2 separate regions of the Homo sapiens genome follow, and region 1 is linked to region 2. Evidence: fine-mapped expression QTL. A gene starts in region 2. The other region holds a variant in brackets. All regions are shown on one strand. Distances are from middle to middle.

Region 1 (8,748 bases), 23 kb after region 2:
CTCAAAGAGAACCATGATCCAAGGAGCTAACTACATGTTTTTTTTTTTTTTGAGATGGAGTTTCGCTCTTGTTGCCCAGGCTGGAGTGCAATGGCGTGATCTTGGCTCACTGCAACCTCCGCCTCCCAGGTTCAAGCAATTCTCCTGCCTCAGCCACCATGCCTGGCTAATTTTTTGTATTTTTAGTAGAGACGGGGTTTCTCCATGTTGAGGCTAGTCTCGAACTCCTGACCTCAGGTGATCTGCCCGCCTCAGCCTCCCAAAGTGCTGGGATTACAGGCGTGAGCCACCACGCCTGGCCGCTAACTACATGTGTTCTATGAGGTGAGGTCCTTCCCAGACCCTGGAATCAGGGGTTGCAATTAGGGTCCAAATAATGAGGTTGGACTACAGATAACCCATCTCCTTTCTTACCTTTGACTAGATCCAAGGACTAAACTCCAAGAACCCGAGCATCTGTCCCCAAAACTGAAAGGATTGGACTAGTCACCCCTTGTTTCCCTACAGCCACATCCCAGGCACCTGGCCCTTGCTTTGTCCAGAAATTCAGCTATAACTCCACACATCTGATGGCCCTTTCTGGCAAGCAGGCATTTCCATCAGGACCCTCAGCTGCCAGACACATTTACTGGAGGTCACTTATTAAACCTGGGCTCAATTTCCACACAGGGAGGCTACTGAAGCATCACACTGGGTCTCCCAGCCCCTTCTCATAGAGGAAAGATCTCTCTGTCCTGCAGGGTTGGCAGTCAGCGCCAAGTAAAGGGAATTTAGCTCTTGGCCCAAGATCCCTGCCCAGGAAAGGTACTTGCGCCTGCTGGAAACTTTGGGCTGAAGTATACTCCTTTCCAAAAACTCAGGTCTGATATTTACACAAAGTCTGAAATTAATGCAGAGAAAACTTCCAAGTGCTTGGACTGGAGCAGAAGGCTGAGAACAGGAAGGGGCTGGTCCCTGGTACTAGTTTTGGTTTTTTGGTGGTTTTTTTTTTTCTTGTTTTTTCTCACAGAACAGGGCAAAGCTGAGTGTCCCTGGATGAGTGAAGCAGGAGGATTAATCATGCCCAGTGCTTCTCCACTTTAAACTGGTTTTCCTGGGAATTTGCAATTGAGAGTGGGGAGGGGTAAGAATCGTGGGAAAAGGCTGATGGTGTTCAGCCAAATTCATCCTTCACGTGCCCACCCTTCTACAGGCACATGCTTTGGGGCCATCCACGGCTGCAGCCACCCCATCCTTAGGAAGCACCACTGGCCTTCCTTTCCGGTACCTGGACTCAGCATCACTCCCAGCCTCTTGGAGATGCAGCCTTCATTCAGCACACAGCTCAGCTCTGAGTTCTGTTTTTGTCCCTAGATGTCTCTGGGGTCACCTACTACTCCCTGCTTGGTGGCCCAGGCCCATCCTTCTCCACTCTTGCACCTCTTTTAGCAGAAAAGGAGTGAGAATGGATATTTCCATGGGCCGTGTGTGCACTCCCGGCTACCCCTGACAGCTCTACTCAGAGCTACCCTCCCTCCTGGGGCTTCTTATGTGTTCTAAGGCTGAGGCAGGAAGACTGTGAGATCAGGTGACACTCAACAGTTATGATCGGTCTTAAGATTAACAGTCCTGGCCGGGCGCAGTGGCTCACGCCTGTAATCCCAACACTTTGGGAGGCCGAGGCAGGCAGACCACGAGATCAGGAGATCAAGACCATCCTGGCTAACACAGTGAAACCCCGTCTCTACTAAAAATACAAAAAATTAGCCAGGCGTGGTGGCGGGCACCTGTAGTCCCAGCTACTCAGGAGGCTGAGGCAGGAGAATGGCGTGAACCCAGGAGGCGGAGCTTGCAGTAAGCCAAGATTGCGCCACTGCACTCCCGGGTGACAGAGCGAGACTCCGTCTCAAAAAAAAAAACAACAACAACAACAAAAAGATTAACACTCCTTCTACTTCCAAACCTAATACAAAGGGACATTGCCTAGTGATTAAGAGAATTCATTCATTCAACAAATACTTGTTGAGCACCTACTATGTGCCAAGCACTGTTCTAGGCACCGGAAATACAGCAGTGAGAAAAACCAAAAAAACTCCCTGCCCTCATGGGGTGTATATTCAAGTAGCTGAAACAGACAGTGAACAAACAAAAAAGGACAATAATTTCAAATAATAATGATGCTATCGGCCAGGTGTGGTGGCTCATGCCTATAATCCCAGCATTTTGGGAAGCCAAGTCAAGCGGATTACCTGAGGTCAGGAGTTCAAGAACAGCCTGGCCAGCATGGTGAAACCCCATCTCTACTAAAAATACAAAAATTAGCCAGACATGGTGGCACACACCTGTAATCCCAGCTACTTGGGAGGCTGACGCAGGAGAATTGCTTGAGCCCGGGAGGTGGAGGTTGCAGTGAGCCAAGATCTGACAGGCCTTCAGCACCACTGCACTCTAGACTGGCTGACAGAGCGAGACTCTGTCAAAAAAAAAAAAGCTATAAATAGACTTTAACAGGGTAACATGATAGGGAGGGAGGGATAGGGGAGCAGGGTGGTCAAGGAAGGGACATTTAAACAGGCTAGAATGACAATGGCCAGCGAGGGAAAGATCCAGAAGTGTGTGCTGGAAGAAGAAAGAGCAAGCACAAAACCCTTAGGACAAAATCAGCTCGTGTGGTCAAGGCACAGCTAGAATGTGGCGGGGTTGAGGGTTTGGGGAATAGTGATCTGAGCAGGAGCAGGAGCGGATCACATGGGGCCTCACAGGCCCTGGGAAGGAGCTGGATTTTTCTCCAAGAACATTCATCCTTTTCTGCCATGAAGTCCATAGGCCAAGCTCCCTTTTGCTCCCACCCCCTCCAGCAGGATCAGACTACCCAGGGAACACGAGGACTTCTGGTGGGTGACTTGGAAGGAATAAGAGGAAGTTCCAAGTAAGTTGCCACAAGGAATCATCACTCTGTATCTCTTCTCCTAACTGGAAATAAGTAATTTCCAGAGGCCTCACCTATGAAAATTCTGGCCAAAGGTGCCAAGAAACTTCCCCAGATTCACCTAGATAGTACATTATGAGTCAAAGGTATGAATTCAGGTTGTGTTCTTAAGATACCCACCTTCTAGTGTACCATGTTATCTCCCAAGAGGCTTGAGAAGAGGCTATTCAGGAAACTGCATAGAGACTGGGTCCAAAGTGGACCTCAGAGAGAGGATGAAGAACAGCGTATCTCTTGTCCCAACAGGTCCAAGTCAAAGAGGTATTACTAGCAGGGACATAGATCAGTGAGTGAAGGGAATCACGACAGAGAGGCCAGAGAGGGGAGAGATTGATGTCATCTTTTCAAGTATTTCTGTACTACACGTCCTAAACCC[CA/C]GCCTGCTCCTTCCACTTCCTACTGTGCCCACCCCCACCTCCAGAAGCAGGCAGAACCTTCACCTAAAAGCTCACACAGGCCTTCGGCAAACCAAGGCCAGCTCTGTTTTTATTGTTTGACTAGCATCCGCCTGGCTCCTGGTCAGGACAGTGAGGTTGGCCTCGGACTGGCAGTGGCAGAAACAGCTCCGTGGGCTGATTTCTGAAGCTGAAGTTTCGAAGAGGCTTCAAAACACCCCTCTCCCTGTCCCTCTGTGATCAGCAACACAGGAAGCAGCAGGAGTTGGTCAGCTCTTCCAACTGCCAGAGGTACGCGGTCTCTCATGGTAGGATGGGACTTTAGAAAAGGTTAGAGACTCAGCTCACGTCGGGGGGCTCTACTGACTACCCACAGGTTGACTAGTAGGAATCCAGATATTTTTGAGCAGATGATGATCATGCTTTTGTAGGTGCTGGCTGAGACATAGCCCATTTAATCAGAAATGACTTGATTAGAGCTCTTGAAAAAGCTCATCCTGAAAACCCCTGGAGGAAGTTAACAGGACTGTCTGCAGCCCTGCCACGGAGCAGGGCATTTGTATAGTGGCCTTTTTTTTCTTTTTTTTTTTTTTTTTTTGGAGCCCCTGGGAAATTTGCCTGAAGGACACTGTGGAAGAGCCACCATGCTGGGCTGTAGGAGCCAGCTTTGCAGGGGACCCCTGGAGACACAGGGAAAGCCAGGACTCAGAGCCCCAGCAGGGCCCTGCCCTGTGGATGGAAGGTCCAGGAGTGGATCAGGAGTCCCACTTGGGAACCCCCTCCTCCAAAATGGACCCTGTGTTACTCATTGGCAAGATCCCACCAACCGTGCGCATATTCCAGGCACTCTGCCCATATTCCTGGGCAGAACTGGAAGAGATTTGGGTTTCCCTCTCTCGTGAACTAATTAGTGATGCATTTTCCCATCTACCAACCCCTAAAACTTTCCGGATCTGAAATTCCATGAGAACATTCCCCATATCCCCCTTGATTTATATTTGTTACCTAGTATGTTGTCTCCCCCTTGAAATGTGTTTGTTGACTGAATAATGGAATTAATGAGTAAAGCTAATGAGCGTAAAGGGACTGTAAATGCTGAGAAAACCATAGCATTGTAGCCACAGGACCTGGATTCCAAACCAAACTCAGCCACTCACTATCTGTGTGACTTTGGGCACGTTGTCTAACCTCTCTGAGCCATTGTCTTCCTTCCTATGAAGACTGTTCTAAGGATAAGAAACGGCACATGTACAGCTCAGAGAGGAGTTCCTGACATACAGCAGGCCCTTCCTAAAGATGGCCCCTAGATTGTTCCTGAAGCCATGGCATAAGTGGATTCTGGCTATAAAATGCCCACTGTTGCCTGAAGATAGAGAGGGGGTGACTGCCCTCCCTGACCACAGAGAAGCTCCAAGAGCTCTGTGGCAAGCCGTGGAGACGGCAGTGGCAGATTAGGCTCTTCCTTTACAGTCCACAGTTTTATTTGAACTCACATCCTAGTCCTGGGGTGAATAGAGGAATGATCCCTAGGCTAAAATAGTTGGTGGGGTGGGGGGCCCCATTGTTTGCTGTCACTGCAGAACAAATGACCATTCACTTACAGCATCATTTAAATTAGATACAGATGCAAATTGTATGTGGGTGGTGTTTCTTATCAGGCTAGCACCCATTAGTTGGGTGGCTACTTTGTGCAGAAACTGACCTCAGTGCCCCATTCACTTGGACCATCATTTAAATTCGATATAGATGCAAATTGCATGTGAGTGGCACTTTTTATCAGGCTAGCACCCATTAGTTGGGTGGCTACTTTGTGCAGAAACTGACCTCAGTGCCCATAGTAGGTGCTTGGTGTATCCATATTAGTTGAAATGCAGTGAGGGGCATACACAATGCAGGTGTTCTTGCTCCTCAGTGAGGGAGGAACCAGCCAGACAAACCTTGAGAAAGGAGGCCAACTCAGCATCTCTCATTTAAGTCCTACAGCGTCCTATGCTATTTGATAGATCCTATCTAATCAGCACTTTAGAGGTAAGGAAATTGAGCCTCGAGAGGTTAAATAATTGAGCCAAGGTCATATGCTCACAGGAAAGTGTCAGAGCTGCGATTCAGCCACATCTGTCTGACTCCCAATCATGCTCTTTCTGTTGCACCAGGGCCTGCTCCCACCCTGGCCATCGCACCCACCCATGCACACATCCCTTAAGTGGTTGGCCTAGTAGTTTGAAACAAAAGTGGGAAAGAAGCCACAAGCCAAGATGAGTCTGCTAATAAGTTGGTCATAACAACAAGAAATGACAAAGGACACAGGCAGACAGGAGAGCGTTTCAGGCTGGGGGAGGTTTCCAGGCGGTGGCATTTGCATGGGGCCTCAAGGAAGGTGGGAATAGGTCAGACATAGAGCTAAAGAGAGGGTGTTTTTTGAAGGAATGGAACTGTGTGAGCAAAAGAAGGGAGTGAAAGGACAGGGCCAGACCCTAGCCCCAGATTCAAATAGGGCACTGCCAGGGGATAAGACCCATGCCACATCGGCAGTCAGGTAACAAGTATAACCTGCAGGTATGACACTCTCCGTGGTGTCATTTCTCGGTTTCTTATTTTCTTTTCTCGCAGCTCCACTACCCGAGCCTTTTTTTTTGCTCCCCAGAGAGCCTCCCCTCACTTCTGTTAGATGTGTGCACCACCCTCCCAACCTCACAACTCTCCTTTCTGCCTTTTCGTCCCTAGCACAGTGAGGGCATGGGGGCATCTTTCTGAATAGGCTGGACCTTCCCAGAGAATGTGCTCAATAGGCAAGCGAAACCCTTGTGCATTGCCCTGGATGTTGCAGCAGAACAGCAAGCAATGAGCAGGTCCCTGGCCATGAGGGAGGCTGAGAGGGTGGAGATGCAGTTCCTTCTGTTCCCAGAAGTTAAAAAGGTGGAACTCTTCTCTGCACTGCGTGGAGCTGGCATTTGGAATCTCAGGGAACTCCAGAGTTAATTCTCCCACCTGCCCCCATTTCAGAGATGGAAAATCCGAGGCTCCGGGTCAGGCAGCCATTTTAGTCAGGGCCAAGGTTAGGACCCAGAGCCGACTCACTCATGTCTGCTATCTCTGGATACAGGTTTGTCTGCACTCACTAGGCTAGAAGCAACTCCAAGGAAAAACCTTTCTTTCCCTTCACTGGGCCCCTCTGTCTTAGCACAGAGCTGCTCAAGGCCAATCCTAGACAAAAGTATGGCCTTGAAGGGTTTATCTCCAGCACTCCCCACCCTGCTGCCAACTGTCTGTTTCACAGGACCTACACACTTGCCCGGAATGGAGAAAAACACATGGAATTTGATTTAAGATGCTTCAGTGATGACAGAGCAAGTAACAAATTTGGAAAAAGGAAATCAAAGATACGGAAAAAGACAAGGTGTTGAAGAAGGTGGGGAGAAGAGAAAGAGGAGGAAATATCAAAAGAGTATTGGCAGCTACAAAAATTACCTTCACAATTTCCCTGGGGGTGATGCTTGCATGATGATCCCAATTTACAGAAGGGAAAACTGTAAACTGAGGCCTTACATGAGTTTCCTGGTGAGTTAGGACAGAGCTGGGACTGAAATCAGCTTCCTGGCTTCCCGTTTCTATACCATCCCACCACGTCTGTTTAGAATATGTGGGAAGTTAACAGCTGCAGTTGGGGTGACTCTGGCCAGATATGCTCTTGGTGTAGGGTCCCTGGCCTTTTCCCTATGCTGGGTTTGAAATCCCAGCCTCGAGTGCATATGCTACTGCGTTTATGCACAGCTATCAGGATGATCTTGTTCATGAGCGAGTGACAAGAGAAAAGGTGCTATTGGGAGATTAGGCTGCAAATAAGTGATGTGCTGGTGACTGGTGACTACAGGAATGGGGCACCTTGGTCCTTTCGAATCCATCTTCTAGGACTTAAGTCAGGGACACAGAGCCACCTGGTCGCAGGCAAATCTTACTGGTCTACCAGTCTACCAAACCCCAACGTCTACTTACTCATCTAACAAGGAGGTGTCAAATACCATTTTGTGTTATTCCTGGTACTGTGTGAGTTAGCATAAAGGGATTTTGTTTTCATTTAAGACTTGATTTTCAAACTCTAGGAGGTCACAGTCTGCGTGATGAGACAGAGTTAGCACACATAAAACAACAGAAGAAAAATTGGGTGCTAAACAGTGTGTAGAAAGTCATAGCTGGGGGGAATACAACCCAGGGCCAAGGCCTGGTGAGGTTTCAGGGAGGAGGCCTGCAGGATCTGGGAGAGGAGGGTGGGCGTTCACGTAGCCAGCAAACATTTGCTGAGTCTACACTGATGTGGACTCACGCTGGGCCAGGGGAGGTGACATGGAGATGAACATTTCCTGACCATACCCTAGGGCTGGCAAACTGGCCTTGGTTTTAGGGCCAGCCTCAATGTCCCCAGGGACACATGGAGGACAGCACAATGAATGGAGAATGAGGCTTCATTCAAAGGAAAGAAAAGTGCTCATTATCCTTCCCCAGCCCGTTTCTTTATTTACTATTATAGTCATGCAACATTTAACAGGGATGCGTTCTGAGAAATGCATTCTTAGGCAATTTTGTCATCCAGCAACATGTGCAGTGGAGACCCCTCCACTAAAGTGTACTTACACAAACCTGGATGGTACAGCCTACTACACTCCTAGGCCATATGGTATAACCTAGTGCTCCTAGGTGACACACCCATACAGCATGTTACTGTACTGAATACTGTATTTTTACTGTACCTTTTGTATGTGTAGATAGGTTTAGATACACAAATACTTGCCTTTGTGTATACACAAATACTTCCCTCTGTGTATCTAAACCTATCTAAACCTATAAAAGATACAGTAAAAATCCTGTATAAAAGATAAACAATGGTACACCTATAGGGCATTTACCATGAACAGAGCTTGCAGGACTGGAAGTTGCTCTGGATGGGTGAGTGACTGAGTGGTGAGTGAATGCGAAGGCCTAGTGCATTATTGTACACTGGTGTAGGCTTTATAGACACTGTACACTTAGGCTACACTAAATTTGTAAAAATAAATAAAGTAATTGCACTATGACGCTACAACGGCTGCAGCATCACCAGGTGATCACCAGGTGATCGGCGTTTGTCAGCCCCATTAGAATCTTACAGGACCATCATCGTAGGTACAGTTTGTTGTTGACTGAAATGTTATGTGGCCCATGGCTGTAGTTACGTCCAGTAGTATGCTGGTAAATCCACTCTCAAAAAGGAAAAGAAAGAAAAAGAAAAAGAAGAAGTCTCACCTCGTTGATAGTGTCTGCTGATATCCATCATAACCAGTTTCAAACTACCAGTGTGATGTCACCGAACACAAAATTTGAAAGAGATGCATAAAATGGACTCTGGCCGGC
Region 2 (8,748 bases):
TGCTCTATGAGTTAGTTTAATGGAGTGTAGAAGCCAGCCTCCAAGATGCCCCCAGTGATCCCCATCCCCTGGTATTCACATCCTGTATGACCCTCCCACACTAGTTCAGGGCTGGCCCTGTGTGGGACTTCCAAAGCTATGACACAGAAGCACTGCACTCCCTGTGTCACTCACTGTGGTGGAAGCCAGCTGCCATGTCATGAGGACACTCAAGCAGCTCCATCGGGAGGCCCTATGGAGATGAAATGAGGTCACTGGCCAGCAGCCAGCACCAATTCACCAATCACGTGAGCGACCCACCTTGGACATGGATCCTCAAGCCCCAGTCAAGCTTTCAGCTAACTGCAGCTGTAACTGACATCTGACTACAACTTCAAGAGCTAGTCCAGGCCAGAACTGCCTGGCGAAGTTTCTCCCAAATTCCCGATCCATAGAAACCATGAGAGATATTAAATAACTATTGTTTTAAGACACTCAGTTTTGAGGTGATTTGTTACACAGCCATTATAACTGGAATATCGGATTATGTCGTTCATTCCAGGGGGGCTGTCTCTAGTGCTCTGCTCTAGAACTCAGCCCTAATCTCCGTCCCAGGCAATATTTTTATGAGCAGCCTGAATGAAAACATAGAAGTGGCACACTAGTTAGCTTTGTAGAATGTCTGCTGCTAAGAGGAATGGCAAACACACAGAATAATAGAGTCAGAATCCAAGATGATCTGAAGTAGTAAACTGAATTAGTTAGTGTAATGTTTAAAAGAAGCAAAAATGAAGCCCCACACTTGGATTGGAAAAACCCATTGTACCAGGATAAGCCAAAGGAGATGCTAGGTGGCAGAAGCACTGTGAAAAGGAAGTCTGAGCTGGCTGCAGGCTCCAAATGAGTCATGATGAGGCTGTCATAAAAGCACATAAATGTTGGCTGCATTACCAGAAGCACAGGACCCAGGTTATTGAGGTGAGCTCTCCTCTGGACCCAATCCAAAAGGGAGAAGGGAGAGACTTGAGATCACTGATTCCAAACAGAAAGGTTTATCACGTGGCAGGAGGTCCTGGGACAGGTTAGGGTTGGGGGGATGGAAATGGGCCTGTCTTGTTCACTGCTGAATCCACAGTATTGGGCATGAGCTTCTGTGAAAGCTGAAAGCTGCCTAAATACAAGAACCACGTGAAAAAAATGGATGTGGCCTCAGAAGGGAGTCAAACTCATGGCCACATCCAAGCAGAGTCTGATGTCCTACTTGAGGGAAACATCATGGACAGGACTGACATACTCTATGGAGGGGTGTCCTTAAAGTTCTCCAAGAGCTCTTCCCAGCTCTGAGATTCTCTTATTCTGTGATTTGTGATTGAATGAGTAGAACCTGCTGAATGATGTCAGCACAGTGCTTCTCAAACTTCAGCAGGCATATACAACACGGGAGGGATCTTGTTAAAATGCAGATTGTGAGTCAGTAGGTCTGGGGAACCTGGCATTCTGCATTTTGAATAAGCTTCCAGGTGACACTGCCAGTCTATAGAACATACTCTGAGCAGCAAGAGGTTAGAAATTGCCAGTTTACAGCAGACTGCATCGGGCAGCCTGGAAAAGGCATTAGGCAACTGTAAAGTATTCTAGCAGAAGAGGAGATGACCAGCTTCAGAAATATTACACTGGAACAGAGCTCCTGAGTTGGACAGGAAGAGCCTGTGTATGCCACCAAGGGCCTTCTGACACGCATGTCCTTTGACTCTCTGAATACTGTCTTTAAAGTGTCCAAATGCGTTGCCATTATCCTGGGTTTTTTGTATCCTTTAGGGCTAGGGAGTGTGAATTCATACCAGCCTGTACTCCAATCCCATTCACTACCTTGATGGCCTCTGAGTCTTGGTTTCTTAGTGTGTAAATGGGAATGGCATCCATCTGAGAGGCTGCTGTACCAAGCAGCATCTGACACATAATAGGTGCCCAATATATGTTTCTTAGACTCATTACAAAACCAGATGATCAATAAACATTTGTTCCCTTCAATACAAAGATAAATCGCCTAATTAATATTTGCCCTTGACTTGTTCTTCATTAACCCCACCTGCCCTAGGATGAATGTTGACATGAACCCATTTTACAAATGAGAGCAATTTGTTCTCCCACAAGGCATCAGGTAAACACAGGCATGAGAATCCATGACCTCGTTGGAATTTCAGGGACTGTTTTTTTCCCAGAGGGTCATTTCTCCCTGTTCCAGGCATTGAGGCCAGTAACTATTAAGATTTCATCTCTTTTTTTTTTTTTGAGACGGAGTCTTGCTCTGTCGCCCAGCCTGGAGTGCAGTGGCGCCGTCTCAGCTCACTGCAAGCTCCGCCTCCCGGGTTCACGCCATTCTCCTGCCTCAGCCTCCTGAGTAGCTGGGACTACAGGCGCCCGCCGCCACGCCCGGCTAATTTTTTTGTATTTTTAGTAGAGATGGGGTTTCACCGTGTTAGCCAGGATGGTCTCCATCTCCTGACCTCGTGATCCGCCCGCCTCGGCCTCCCAAAGTGCTGGGATTACAGGCGTGAGCCACTGCGCCCGGCCTCATCTCATTTCTTTATCTGTGAGAGAAGCCACTATCACCCCCTAAGGGGCTTCGGTCACCAGCATTTTGTCTGTGTCCTAAATGCTTCAAGACTTACAGACCTGACTCAATACGCTCAGGTAGAAAAAGGGTGAAATCAAGAATGGCCAACCACTGGAACACTTTAGCCATTGCTCTGAGAGGTGGGTGGATAGAGTGGGCACTATGCTCCCTCCGACGGGGCTTCACTGCCCTGGACAGGGGAGAGACAGGCGGCTCACAGAGCATGTGCTGGGCCAGGGCCAGTCCCGCCCCCAGGCAGAGATGGCCAGTAAAATAACCACATAATTCCAGTGGAGTCGCCCTGGGGAAACCGAGGCACTTCAGTTCCTTTTCATCAAGGAACTGATTAAAGTGTGGTCTATTATCTCTGTAGTGGGGAGTCCCGAAAGATTCCACTTCTTCCTCTTCTTGCCCAATGAGAGGGTCAGGAAGCTTCCACCACCATCCTGACTGTGGCCACCACATCCTGGTGTGAAGCACCACCAGCTTCCTCCACAAGAACTCTGAAGGTCACCAGCCAGCTTGAGTCCTCCGAAGGTGCTGTGGCTCAACCAGCAGCCTGTGTAGCAGAGAGCACAAGACCTGGGACTCGAACTCAGTCCCACCTTCAAGAGGGATCTCCACCACTTTCTGAGCCTCAGTTTTCACATCTTTGGTTAGGGGCAGGTGGGAAGTTGCCATATTTACCTTGTTGGGCTCTTTGGAAAAATTAAATGAAATGTTAATGTATGTTACACAACGGGCTCATAGGAGGGATTCAAAAGCTGCTAGTTCTTTTTCTCCTTTTCCTGAAAACGGTATTAAAGAGTACTGTAGAGACACTGGAGAATTCCTGCTTCATATGAGATGTCCTTGGTCTCTCCCGGGGAATTTGAAGACCCAGAGACTCGCAGCTCCCCGTGAGCCTCCCCGCTGACGCCTTACCTCCCCCTCTCCACCATCCCCTGCCATCCCGGTGTACGCCACCCCCAAAAAAACTTTCAGCCAGCTCCTCGGTGAGGGTCGTTCCAAATCGTGGCCGACAGTAGCGGGCTGCACCCTCCTTAGATCGCGTCGTGGCCAGCCTCAGCTGCAGAACCCCGCCGGGCGCCCGGGAGCCCTGTCCCGCCGCGGCGGCCTCAGAGTCCGGGCACTTGGGGATTCTCTGAGGGTGCAGCCCTCCTGGGCCCCTCCGACTGCGGAGCTGCCGACCGCAATGCAGATGCGGGCCCTCCAGCCCTTCTCGCGCCGCCTTCCTCCCGCCAGCCCCGGAGCTGCCGGGTCCGCGCCGCCCCGGGGAGCGCTCCTCTCCCGCCCTGAGCGCAGGCCGGCTTCCCCATCGGCGCGCCGGTCCGGAGCCAGGGTCCAGCGCGCTCCAGACGCCTCTGCCTTCCCCTCCCCCTGTCGGCCGCCCCTCGGTCCCTGGGGGTGGGGTTTCCCTTTGCGCTCGCCCCCTCCCGCCCCCACCCCTCACGGGCCCTCCCCTCCCCCGCCCGTCCCTATGTATGTGTCACAGCGCGCCATGCCCGCCCGCCCGCCCACCTACCTCCCCGCCGCTCCAGAGGGGGCTCGCAGAGCTGAGGACGCGCGCAGCGCTGCTCAAGGTCTCTCTCTCTCAGCACCCTCGCCGGCCGGCGTCTGACGCGGGTGCCAGGGTCTCCGGGCACCTTTCAGTGTCCATTCCCTCAGCCAGCCAGGACTCCGCAACCCAGCAGTTGCCGCTGCGGCCACAGCCCGAGGGGACCTGCGGACAGGACGCCGGCAGGAGGAGGGGTGCGCAGCGCCCGCGCAGAGCGTCTCCCTCGCTACGCAGCGAGACCCGGGCCTCCCGGCCCCAGGAGCCCCCAGCTGCCTCGCCAGGTGTGTGGGACTGAAGTTCTTGGAGAAGGGAGTCCAACTCTTCAAGGTAACTGTCTCCTTCCCTCCAGAGCGAGGCTCTCCCAGGGCGCCCGGCGAGCCAGGAACGGGACTGAGACTGCACGCCCCGGGGCTGGGGGCTGCACTGCCTTGGTCTCCGCCCTAGAGCTATGTGTGCCGGGGGCGCAGCACATCCACCGGCTGCGTCCGCGGTGGAGTTGAGCAAACTTTTTGGCTGTTGCAGACTCAGTGAATGGGGCAAAGGAACACGTGAGGAGGGGCACTTGTCTCCTAGTCCGCCAGGATGAAGGAACAAGGGAGCCTTTTCTCCAAACACCTAGGTGATTTTAAATCCTAGGGTCTGGAAAGACCCATGGTTGACAGAGTAGCAGCTTCAGAGTCAAGGGAATGTGGGTTCAAATCCCCGAGGTGCTACTTTTGAGCTGGAAGGTGTGCTTCACCTTCCTGAGCCTTGGCCTGCCGTCTGTCAGCTGAGAGGGAAAAGGCCTTCGCGGGGTCTGGAAGAATAAATGAAATCATATGGACACTATGTCAGGGACACAGCGGGTCCTAAGCCGAGGCTAGATAGTCCATCCTTGGCCACTTGGCTTACTCCAGGGACCAGAGTGCCTGAAGAGTCTGCCCAGGGGAGAGTGGCAGAACCTGGGACAGAGCTACTGAACTGCCAGCAGGGGAGAGGAGAGCAGTGCCCTGAACACACGGGTGTCCAACCAAGAAGGGGCATTTCTCAAGGAAGAAAGGGGAGGGGAGTTGAGGACACACGACCACGAGCGGTTTTTCCGTCTGTGGGTTCCTCTTCAAACGAAGCCAATGCTGGTGGAGCAGGAGCCCTTTCCAACCCTGGGGCTGGGTTGGAGGCTGTCAGTATGTCAACTGAACCACACTCTGGGCAGAGCAAGCTGCGGGGGTGGGGGCTTGTCTCTGGTTGTGAGACAGGATCCAACCCAAACTTTTCCATCATTATCCTCCTTTCAGTCATGAGCTGGGTTCTGACAGGATCCTACTAGGGTTTCACCATGAAGAAGCTGGAGTTCCAGCATGTTGACTGATGTGTAAATTCTGGTTCTGTGGGGCTGGCTGCCAGGAGGAAAATACAAAGCTGAATTGGGTTAGCACGGTGTTTTGGGGTCCTGGGTGCTGCAGTGGGTGGGTGTCTGACAGTTTAGAGGGGACTCTGGACCTTGAAAATTCACCCACCTCGTCTGAAGAGGAGGGCAAGTGGACCCAGAAAGGTGCAATGAATTTCTGAAGGTTGAACTGTGACTTAGGGTCAAGGGCAGAACTAGAATCCAGGTTTTCTGAGGCCATAGTCGGTCCCTCGTCCTGATTTAAGAGTCCAGAATTCTTGGGTTCTAATCCTTATCTCTCTTTCTTGTCCTGGGTTGCCATGGACAAGGAGCAATCAGGTTGCTCATGCACCCTGGGCAAGGTGGGTTTGGAGGCACTATGAAGATACGGTTTAGGAGTGTTGGCTTGTCAATCACAGGCTCCAGGGAGAAACTGCAGGAAATGGAAAGGCAATGGGGAAGAAAACCCTGAAGCTCGTTGGGGGAGGAAGCATTGAGCGGCAGTGGGGAGGAGAGGTTCTAACCTGAAAGAAAGATTGCAGAATAGTAGATCTCCCCAGTATAAAAAGTTTCAGAAGAAGGAATTGTCCAAAGGAAGAAGATATCTCTTGGAGAGATGCTGGAATTCCACAGGTTACCTTGAGCTGTGTTTAATTTAGATATTCTTACGTGTAGTTTCTAGTGCTGTGCCTGGTATTTTCATTCATTCTCCAATATCTGCTGAGCGCCACCTAGGTGCCAGGCTCTGTGCTCAATGCTGGCCCACAGCGGGTACTCAATAAACAGCAGATATGAGATGACCCAAGCAAAGGGCTTAGCGTAGTGCCTGGCACTGGGCAAGTACTCAGTAACTGTTTCATATTATTAATATTACTATTATCATTCTTAATTCTAGTAGTAAATGAATGTTTTTCTTTTTCTAGAATATTCACTGACAATCATACTTAAAAGGGAATATTTTGTTTAATGTTCGGAAGCCCTCCACACACCCAGGCACACCTCTTGCCCCTGTTCCCCATCTCTCTCACACCCACACGCCCAATCCCAGGCAGCCACTCACCCCTGCATGCCAAGGCAGAGCGTTCTCCTCCTCTTATGCCCCCTCCCCAATTAGAGAGGGAGCTCCAAGAGAGAGCTCACCTCCTGAGACAGTCGGCAAGAGCCAGGAGGGTGGACAGCCTGCATGCAAGGAAGACTGGGATTCAAATTCCAGCTCAGCCACTCGCTGGCTACATGGCTTTGATAAGGGTACTGAGCCTCCCAGAGGCTTCATTTCCTCTTCTCTAAAAAGGGGAGAAAATCCTCCGATAAGAGATTTTTGTGAAGATTAAAAGACATAAAGTGGGTGCCTTGTCCAGCTCTCAGCAAGCACCACAAACTTTAATTCCTCTCCTCTAACAGCTCCTAAGCCCCCTTGTGGGTCACAAACCCCAAGTTATGGATAGCAAAAATTTCAAATGTTTTCTCTTGATAAGAGACTGTGTGTCCTAACTTTTGGTGTGAATTTTTTTTTTTTTTTTAAGATGGGAGTCTTGCTCTGTTATCCAGGCTAGAGTGCAGTGGCCCAATGTTGGCTCACTGCAACCTCCGCCTCCCAGGTTCAAGTGATTCTTGTGCCTCAGCCTCCCAAGTAGCTGGGGTTACTTGTGTACCACCACGCCCGGCTAATTTTTGTATTTGTAGTACAGACGAGATTTCACCATGTTGGCCAGGCTGGTCTCGAACTTCTGACCTCAGGTGATCGCCTGCCTCAGCCTCCCAAAATGCTAGGATTCAGGCGTGAGCCACCATGCCCAGCCAGTGAATTTCTTTTTAATGATTCCTTCTAGAACTGGGTTCCTCCCAAGACCCTTCTTATTGGGCCCTTAGGAGGACCTCAGCTGAGCCAAAGGAAGCCCATGAGACCCTGCCTAGAGTCCCACTTTGAGTCTGTCTCTGCTGCTGCAGGGATGTCTAGCACCAGATTTGTCCAACTGCAGGTTGTGAGATCAATTTAGCGGGGTTCTTAATAAAATAGGAAATACCAGATAATCTCATAGTGCCTCCTATGTAGCAAAGGTAAGTACTGTTTCTGGAAACTTTTGTTTCTGTTATTTATTTTGAAGCCCTCTATAAGGGTATGTATGTTTATAATATAAATGTATATATGCAAATATATACAAATTTGATATTTGCATATATTTTTATTTAATTTTTTTTTTACTATATTGGTCCCAATGATGTTTCTGTCTCAGAAATTTCAGCATTGTGGCCCTAGGTGGCAGGTGCTGGGGCATCCTTGCTGCCACTGCACCAAGTGCTGGGGAGTCAAGGCAGCTGAGGTGGAAGCTGGAGTTGGGGAAAGGCAAGTTCAAGGAAGAGGACCCAGAGTCAGAGAGGAAGCAGGGCATGGAGGAAGGTCTGCTTATAAGTAGAGCAGGGGAGGGGACAGGCCAGCAGCTGCCCTGGGAAAGGGGATCAGGAGCACATCTTGGGAACAGGAGCCTTCCTCTCCTGCTGTCAACGGCCTGGCCTCGTGGCCATGCTTCGTGTCCTGATGGTAGCCGCACTGCCGCCCTGATAACTTAAAGGAAGCCCCTTCAATGGGATGAAGGGCCCGTTTCTGTGACAGCTACTTTGGGAGTGGCAGCTCCCCTTCCCCCAGATCCAACAGGACACAGCCATCCCTGCGAGGGAGTCTGGGCCCCTGGACGCAGTTGAAGAAGGGCCACTGGGAGGCCGGCAGAACAAGGGGAGGGCTGGAGAAGGAGCGGGAGTGCAGGCGAGAGGAGGACCAGAGAGGGGGAATTTGTAGAGAAAACGGTAAAACGGTTTCTTTTTTCAAAAGTTGAATCCAGGGCAAGAACGGAAACGGTGGAGTTTACTTTTAAAAACTCAGAGCCTCCTTATAAGTGGTGGAGTGTGTGTGTGTGTGTGTGTGTGTGTGTGTGTGTGTGTGCATGCTGGCAGGGCGGGCCCTGCGGGCTGGCCAGGCCTGTGAGAGGTGACTTCTCTCCCTCTCAATGGCCTTACAGTGTATCCTAAAGAAGCTTTTTGTTAAACTCATGAATAGGTGGATTTGGGGTGTGTGATGCTGGGCATCACGATTTGGATATTTGGTTACCTTTGAGGTTACATGTTTTTCCTCTTAAGATACACACTCAAAAAAGGAGCCACCTCTTCTGTGTAGGTCACTATTTTGGTGTATGTGGGGGCGGGGGTGCCTGTCTTTCTGTAATTGATTTGACT

Direction of the effects. Positions count from the first base shown, and alleles are read on the strand shown. Sizes are in standard deviations (SD) of each study's normalised expression.
In carriers of allele CA in region 1, the expression in spleen of the gene that starts at base 4,108 in region 2 tends to be lower than with C alone (moderate effect, 0.52 SD a copy in GTEx).

The links.
Region 1: its variant is fine-mapped to the expression of ACAN in spleen (GTEx, PIP above 0.99).

The regions. Positions count from the first base shown.
Region 1 is chr15:88,822,433-88,831,180 of GRCh38, forward strand. The region is part of intron 1 of ACAN (aggrecan); the gene reads left to right. Among named protein-coding and RNA genes, the nearest start is that of ACAN, 23 kb to the left of the region's middle. The variant CA/C (reference allele first, on the strand shown) is at 3,345.
Region 2 is chr15:88,799,329-88,808,076 of GRCh38, forward strand. It overlaps ACAN (aggrecan), which reads left to right and starts at 4,108. Exons shown (of 19, transcript NM_001369268.1): 1 at 4,108-4,481. It overlaps LOC105370960 (a long non-coding RNA gene), which reads right to left and starts at 4,190. Exons shown (of 3, transcript XR_001751648.1): 1 at 4,122-4,190.